2 linked regions of the Homo sapiens genome follow. The protein of the gene in region 1 purifies or fractionates together with the protein of each later gene. This does not show direct contact. Each region holds a gene or a part of one and is shown in the gene's direction. Other genes may lie near its edges.

What was found. The genes of interacting proteins can lie anywhere in the genome.
Region 2: the proteins of KIRREL2 (region 1) and KLHL13 purify together in Homo sapiens (affinity purification with mass spectrometry; one large-scale study listed by BioGRID and IntAct). This does not show direct contact.

Annotation. Positions count from the first base shown.
Region 1 is NC_000019.10:35,859,732-35,863,770, forward strand, and holds part of KIRREL2 (kin of IRRE-like protein 2 isoform c precursor), read left to right. Parts: intron 1-565; coding exon 566-671; intron 672-787; coding exon 788-936; intron 937-1,177; coding exon 1,178-1,305; intron 1,306-1,390; coding exon 1,391-1,523; intron 1,524-1,809; coding exon 1,810-1,910; intron 1,911-2,073; coding exon 2,074-2,293; intron 2,294-2,761; coding exon 2,762-2,866; intron 2,867-3,183; exon of another isoform or gene 3,184-3,195; coding exon 3,196-3,305; intron 3,306-4,039. UniProt on the Homo sapiens protein: May regulate basal insulin secretion.
Region 2 is NC_000023.11:118,109,905-118,113,943, reverse strand, and holds part of KLHL13 (kelch-like protein 13), read left to right. Parts: intron 1-4,039. UniProt on the Homo sapiens protein: Substrate-specific adapter of a BCR (BTB-CUL3-RBX1) E3 ubiquitin-protein ligase complex required for mitotic progression and cytokinesis.

The DNA of each region.
Region 1 (4,039 bases):
CTGGACTCCTGGATCTAAGATAGCAGGAGAGGGCTGGGTATGGTAGCTCACGCCTGTACTCACAGAACTTTGGGAGGTCGAGGCAGGCGGATCATCTAAGATCAGGAGTTCGAGACCAGTCTGGCTAACATGTCGAAACCCCGTCTCTACTAAAAATACAAAAATTTGCCGGGCGTGGTAGCACACACTTGTAATTCCAGCTACCTGGGAGGCTGAGGCAGGAGAATCACTTGTACCCGGGAGGCAGATGTTGCGGTGAGCCGAGATCATGCCACTCAGCAGCAGAGTGAGACTCCGAGCAGGAGAGGACAGACAGCTGGGGTCCCTGGGGAAAGAGAAAGCTGGGCCTTGACTCTCACATCGGGGAGACTAGGAGAGGGCAGAAGGCTGGCACATTGAGGTAACTGGGGAAATTGGGAACTGAAAGCCCAGACTCCTGGCTCAAAGGGAGAAGGGGATTAGGGGCCCAGACTCCTGGGATGGAGGAACCAGGGACTGGACACCTAGGCCAGTGACGGAGGTGTTCCTGGTCCTTGCCCATCTGACCATTGTCCCACCCTCACAGACCCCCCAGAGGTGACTCTGTCTGCTTCGCCACACACTGTGCAGGAGGGAGAGAAGGTCATTTTCCTGTGCCAGGCCACAGCCCAGCCTCCTGTCACAGGCTACAGGTGAGGACGAAGACCCACCTCTCCCCAGCCCCAAGAGTGAGCTTGGGAAGGGCTGGGACCTGAGTAGGTGTGCCAGAGAGGCCAGGACAACGTTAACAGCGCCACCATTTCCTCAGGTGGGCAAAAGGGGGCTCTCCGGTGCTCGGGGCCCGCGGGCCAAGGTTAGAGGTCGTGGCAGACGCCTCGTTCCTGACTGAGCCCGTGTCCTGCGAGGTCAGCAACGCCGTGGGTAGCGCCAACCGCAGTACTGCGCTGGATGTGCTGTGTGAGCTGGGGCCGGCCTGTGGGTGTGGTCAAAGGTGGCCGTGGCTTTCAGGGCTGTTGAGGGTCGGGGCCTGGAGGGGCGGGGCCGGGAGAGCGAGCGTGGGGTATTAGGAGGAGGAGAGTGTGGAGCTGGGGCATATTCTTGCGCCCTAGAGGGTGTGGTGTTTCTGTGGGGCTGGCTGATCCCAGGTCAGTGGCTGCATTCCGCCCCGGCCATGTGACCCCTAGTCTCTTTCGTCCAGTTGGGCCGATTCTGCAGGCAAAGCCGGAGCCCGTGTCCGTGGACGTGGGGGAAGACGCTTCCTTCAGCTGCGCCTGGCGCGGGAACCCGCTTCCACGGGTAACCTGGACCCGCCGCGGTGGCGCGCAGGTACAGCCCTAAATCTGAGGCGGTGGCTGGAGGGGGACCAGGCTTCCTTACAAATCCGGCTTCTGACGCCCCTTCCCTGTCGCAGGTGCTGGGCTCTGGAGCCACACTGCGTCTTCCGTCGGTGGGGCCCGAGGACGCAGGCGACTATGTGTGCAGAGCTGAGGCTGGGCTATCGGGCCTGCGGGGCGGCGCCGCGGAGGCTCGGCTGACTGTGAACGGTGAGAAGGCGGGGCTTCCTAGGGGACCTGGCCCGTCCTGGGATAGGGAGCGGACAGAGGGGGCAAGGGCTAATGCAGTGGGAGTGGCCTGGAAGGAGCTTTACACCCAGCGGGGGCTGGAGACCGGACCTATTGAAGGCGAGGCTTTTAGGAGAATCGGAGTTTGGAGGCGGCGTGGCCTGATTGATTGAGGTTAGCGGAGAGTGCGCTGGACAGACCCGGCTTTGTTACAGCCTTTGGGGAGGGCAAGACCTCTCCTCTGAGTGACCTACAGTCTCCATCCCAGCTCCCCCAGTAGTGACCGCCCTGCACTCTGCGCCTGCCTTCCTGAGGGGCCCTGCTCGCCTCCAGTGTCTGGTTTTCGCCTCTCCCGCCCCAGATGCCGTGGTAAGGAAATGTCACTCCTCCCGTGACCCATCCAGCCGTGATCCCTGACCTCCCACCTGGCCCCCCGAAACTACTGTGACCATTTCTGACTTCCCAGACATCCCTCCTGCTTCTTCCTCCCCTCCTCAGTCTCCTCCGTGTCCTCCCTCTTTTGTGCCCCCAGGTCTGGTCTTGGGATGAGGGCTTCCTGGAGGCGGGGTCGCAGGGCCGGTTCCTGGTGGAGACATTCCCTGCCCCAGAGAGCCGCGGGGGACTGGGTCCGGGCCTGATCTCTGTGCTACACATTTCGGGGACCCAGGAGTCTGACTTTAGCAGGAGCTTTAACTGCAGTGCCCGGAACCGGCTGGGCGAGGGAGGTGCCCAGGCCAGCCTGGGCCGTAGAGGTGAGACCCCAGCCCGAAGACCCCAAATCTGGAGAGTCTAAACCCCACAAACGCAGGGATCCCCCAGCCGAGGGCTGCAAAACCTCATACCCTCAAATGCAGAGGAGACCTCCAAACCTCGGGAGTCTCAAAACTGTGGGCTCATTGATTCCCAAGACACCCCTCAACCACAAATGCCTTCACATTCTGAATCCTAAACTGAGAGACTCCTCACACCTAGGGGCCCCAAAAAGGGAAACTCCAATGATTGCAAAGCAAATTGCAAAGTAAAGGACCCCTCAAATTCTAAGACTCCCTAAAGCCAGGGAGTTTAAACTCACTCTCAAACTTGGGGAACCCCAAATTCAAGGGCCTTTGAATCTTCAAATGTGCGACCTTTTGAACCCAGGAATCCCAAACTCAATCCCTGAGCCCCCGCTTCCTGGTTCCCCCTCAGCCTTCTCAGGATGTCCCCTCTGCTCCCTGCAGACTTGCTGCCCACTGTGCGGATAGTGGCCGGAGTGGCCGCTGCCACCACAACTCTCCTTATGGTCATCACTGGGGTGGCCCTCTGCTGCTGGCGCCACAGCAAGGGTTAGTGCCTGAGCCCCGCCCCGGCTCCCGAGGCCCCAGCCCCACACGCGCCCTGCCTGCCCAGTGACCTGACCTGGCCTTGGGCCTTGGCTCCAGTCCCATTTCCAGCTCTGCACAGGGCTTAGCTCTCCTTCACGTTCTGGTTCCCTCCTTAAGCCCTAACTAGGCCTTCCCAGGGTCACACTCCTCGGTGGGAATGATTCTTATTGGTTTCCAACAGCCCTACCCAATCAGCCTCATTGGTTCCCAGTCCTCTCTCTTCCCGCTTATTGGTCTGCACACATTGTGACCCCGCCCATCGCTTAACTCCACCGGTCGCTGTTTGTCAGCCTCAGCCTCTTTCTCCGAGCAAAAGAACCTGATGCGAATCCCTGGCAGCAGCGACGGCTCCAGTTCACGAGGTCCTGAAGAAGAGGAGACAGGCAGCCGCGAGGACCGGGTAGGATGCCAGGGTCCCCAGACCTGACTGTGCCTCCAGACCTAAATAATAGCCCAGTCCCAAGAGGGTCCCCAAATTCAAATAGGACTCTAAGGCCAGGCATGGTGCCTGACGTTGGTAATACCACTTTGGGAGGTGGAGACACAAGGATCACTTAAGGCCAGGAATTCAAAGCCAGCCTGGACAGCATAGCAGGACCCCATCTCTACAAAAATACAAACTAAAATAAAATAAAAAATGAACCGGGTATGGTGGCATACACCTATAGTCCCAGCTACTCAGGACACTGAGGTGGGAGGATCCCTTGAGCACAGGAGGTAAAGGCTGCAGTGAGCTATGATTGCACCATGCACTCCAGCCTGGGCTACAGAGCAAGACCCTGTCTCCATTTTTTTTTTTTTTTTTTATGTAGGAGGGCTCTAGTCTTTTTTTTTTTGGCAGAATTTCACTCTGTCACCCAGGCTGGAGTACAGTGCTGCGATCTCGGCTCACTGCAACCTCTGCCTCCCTGGTTCAAGTGATTCTCTTGCCTCAGCCTCCTGAGTAGCTGCGATTACAGGCGCCCACCACCACGCCTGACTGATTTTGTATTTTTAGTAGAGATTGGGTTTCACCATGTTGGCCAGGCTGGTCTCAAACTCCTGACCTCAGGTGATCCACCCGCCTCGACCTCCCAAAGTGCTAGGATTACAGGCATGAGCCTCCACGCCCGGCCTGAGGGCTCAAGTCTTTTT
Region 2 (4,039 bases), on another chromosome or scaffold:
TGTATCATTCATTCATTTACTAATTCATTTTACAAAATCTACTGGGTACTTGTGTGCCAAGGCCCTGTGTTAGGCACAATGATAAACCTTATAAGGCATGATCTTTGCTCTTGTGGAGTATCACAGTGCTTATATTCTACCAGAGAATACAGACAATAAACGAGCAAACAAATGAAGAAGATCCTTATAGACTGTAGTAAGAGCAATGAAAATAAGTAGGGGAATATGATACAGATAGCTAGGAAGGGCCTACTTTAGTGTGGGAAGTCAGAAAAGGCCTTTCAGAGAAGATGATTGAGCAGAGACCTGAAAGAGAAGAGAGAATAGGCCTACCTTGTCAGGATCTGGGAGAACATTCCCGAGATAACATTCTTGCAGAGAGAAGAGTAAGAGCCAAGGCCTTGAGGGGGGAAAAAGAGACTTGGCGTTTTTGAAGAGCAGAAAGCAAGCCAGCATGGCGGATTAAAGAAGATGTTACAGAGCCTAGAAGCAGCTCAATAACCGATAAATAGGACTTGGAGGTCCTGAGAAAGAATTTGGGTTTGATTCTCAGAACAATAGGAAGCCACTGAAGAGTCTTTCCTGGGGAAGGTCATTGGCTTAAAAAAATTATCCAGGGAAATTTAAAAAAAAATGTTTTGCAGAGGATAAATAGAATGTCTACTCATTCAGTCATTTATATTAATACCTGAGAATAAAAAAAACTCTATGATCAGTATGCTAAATAATCATGTAATTCGGTTCCTCTACTCTGTTTAGGTAAGGGGATGGGGGAATGGGAACCCTGAGGTGAGTATGTTAAAAGGCAGTTTACTTTCCACTGTCACATTGTGACTTGTGCTACAAGGTAAGTTGTCACCAACTTTATTAAAAATCAGATCATTGTTCAACTTAAGAATTTATTTTTCAAAGAATGATATCTTATTTTCTCATGGAAATATGTTTCCTTTGGAAGGTTGGAAATTTTATTTTGTATAAAGGAATAACCTAGGTTTTAGAAAGGGCCTTTGGAATTTTAAGAAGGGCTTATCATTTTCTTTTACCTGTTGCCTCTCCAACATTTTCAAATGGCCATACCTTTATTCCTTGAGAGATTAGGGTTACTGTGTTTCCTGAGGCTTAAATGAATTTATTGCCCTAAGCCCTTCCTTGAAAGCAATCCAGCTTTGAGGTCTAGTTGGTCCCAAATAGGAATGCAGATGATTATTGACATTCCATAGGAGTAAATCCTAATATTGTGGGGGAATAACCTGCAAAATAACCTTCATCAGTGCCTGCAGGGTCAACTTGATTTGATCCCAGCCTACTTTCCCATATGTCCTTATTATTCCCTTTCACAAATCTCTATTGGTTTAAACTGATTTTCCCCAGTTTGGAACTTTTGTGCTTAGCATTATTCCTGGCATAGAGTACGTGCACAGTGGGTGCTTGTCAAATGGATGCCATGCCTTTCTTTTTTGTCATTTCAAATTCCAGGTCCTATTACACTATTCCCCATTGAACTAGATCTCCCCCTCTGAAGGTGAACAGCAGTCACACACTTGCCCTGTTGTGTCATAATTATGCTTATTTGATGCCTGGCCATCTCCCCACTTGCCTCTGGCTTCATGAAGGCGACCTAGACCTCATCCGGTTTGCTCATTGTTGTATTCTGAGCACCCAGCACATGGTATGCACTTTATAAATAGTTATTGAATAATGAATAAATACTGTCTTGTGATGTTTCTCCTATTAATTTTTTGATGTTAGATCATTTAATACTGTTTTACTTTTCACGTGTTTGGTGTTCCGAAGTGGTTTCTGAGAGAGGTTGTAGAGCATACTTGTTAAGAGCTCAAGCTCTGGAGCTAGGCCACCTAGGTTTCAATTCCAGCTAGGAGACTTAATAGTTGTGAGACACTGGGTGAGTCAGTAAACCTCCCTGTACCTCAGTTATCTCATATGTAAAAAAGGGGTAATAGAACTTGCCTCTTATGGTACTTGCAAAGATTACATGAATTAGCTAGGCCCACTTTTTCTTTTCTCTTTTTCTTTTTCTTTTTTTTAGACGGAGTCTCGCTCTCTCACTCTATCGTTCAGGCTGGAGTGCAGTGGCATGATCCCGGCTCACTGCAACCTCCGCCTCCTGGGTTCAAGCGGTTCTCCTACCTCAGCCTCCCGAGTAGCTGGGACTACAGGTGCGTGCCACCACGCCAGGCTAGTTTTTTGTATTTTTAGTAGAGACAGGGTTTCACCATGTTAGCCAGGATGGTCTCGATCTTCTGACCTCGTGATCCACCTGCCTCGGCCTCCCAAAGTGTTGGGATTACAGGCGTGAGCCACTGCTCCCGGCCTAACTTTTTATTTTTAGTGGAGACAGGGTTTCACCATGTTGGCGAGGCTGGTTTCAAACTCTTGACCTCAGGTGATCCACCCACCTCGGGCTCCCAAAGTGCTGGGATTGCAGGCATGAACCACCTCCCCCGGCCTAGGCCCACAATTTGTTTGCAATTTTTAAATTTCTAAAGCTCTGAAAACTGAAAAAGATTTTATTTGGTAACTTAGATGCCAAAACTCATGTGGTGGCAAAACCTGACTTAAACTGACATAGGGTATTTATAGTCTTTATTCTACTTAATGTTGATCTTTATTTTGTTTTGCTATAGAATTACTAATATGTTTATGGGGTTGCACCATAGACCCTAATGGTGTATTACATAACATATGGTATATAAAGTATATTTCCTGTCTAAAGGTCTGGACATTTCTAAATTCAGAAACACATCTGGCACCAAGATTTTTCGATGAGATTGTACACCTTGCAGTAAACTGCTTAAATCAGGGCCTTGCACATAGTATGTTGTTGCTGTGGGTGGTGGAGATTAGGGAGGTAAATAAACTACTTTATCTTTCCCAATAGCTTGCTCATAATAGTTACCATGTAAATATATACTGATTTACTCATGCAATAACTGTAAATAGAGGACTGGCTGTGTGGTTCTCATGTCATAGGAAAATAGATATGGCAGGGTCATGTAATTGAAATGAGCCAAGACTCGTCTGTTAGTACTCTCATCTGGTACCATTCAGAGCAGTTTAGTTTTTGTTTTTCTGTTGTTATTTAAACCAACCTATGCTTCTTTAGCACAAGAGAGTCTTTTGTGGGGGTGGGGGTAAGAAATTCAGTTAAGAACTTATTTAATGTGATTAGACACTTATTTTTTTGCAGTTGTTGAACATTTATTGAACTGCTAATGTGTATAGAAATCTGTATTAAGAGCAAGAGAAGGCCGGGCATGGTGGCTCACGCCTGTAATACCAGCACTTAAGGAGGCCGAGGCGGGCGGATGATAAGGTTAGGAGATCGAGACCATCCTGACCAACATGGTGAAACCCTGTCTCTACTAAAAATACAAAAATGAGCTGGGCGTGGTGACATGTGCCTGTAATCCCAGCTACTTGGGAGGCTGAGGCAGGAGAATCGCTTGAGACAGGGAGTTGGAGGTTTCAGTGAGCCAAGATCGTGCCACTGCACTCCAGCCTGGTGACAGAGCGAGACTCAGTTTCAAAAAAAAAAAAAAAAAAAAGAAAAAGAAATAGAAAAGTAGAAAAGAGAAAGGTAGAAAACAAATGAGACATGATTCCTGACCTTCCTTAGCCCCAGCGCCCTGCATGGTTACATGGGGACATGAGTGTGCGTTACAATTCTTTATTTTCCTCTGTAAACTTGACATCATTAAGATTAAAAACATGCAAAGGAAAACCCAAGAGTTAATTGAAAACTCTTCTTAGCGTCCATGATATGAATTGGGTTTTAATTATCCTAACACAACCCCCCTCAGTATTATCTTTATATAACATCTTGACAGCCTTTTCCTTTCTAACTAAACTAAAACAACATGGATTTTCTTGTTCTTTACCAATACACAATTGGTGTATTTTCTTTTGTTTTTGGTAGAGATGAGGTCTCACTATGTTGCCCAGGCTGGTGTTGAACCCCTGGCCTCAAGTGATCCTCATGCTGTGGCCTCCCAAAGTATTGGGATTACAGGCATGAGCC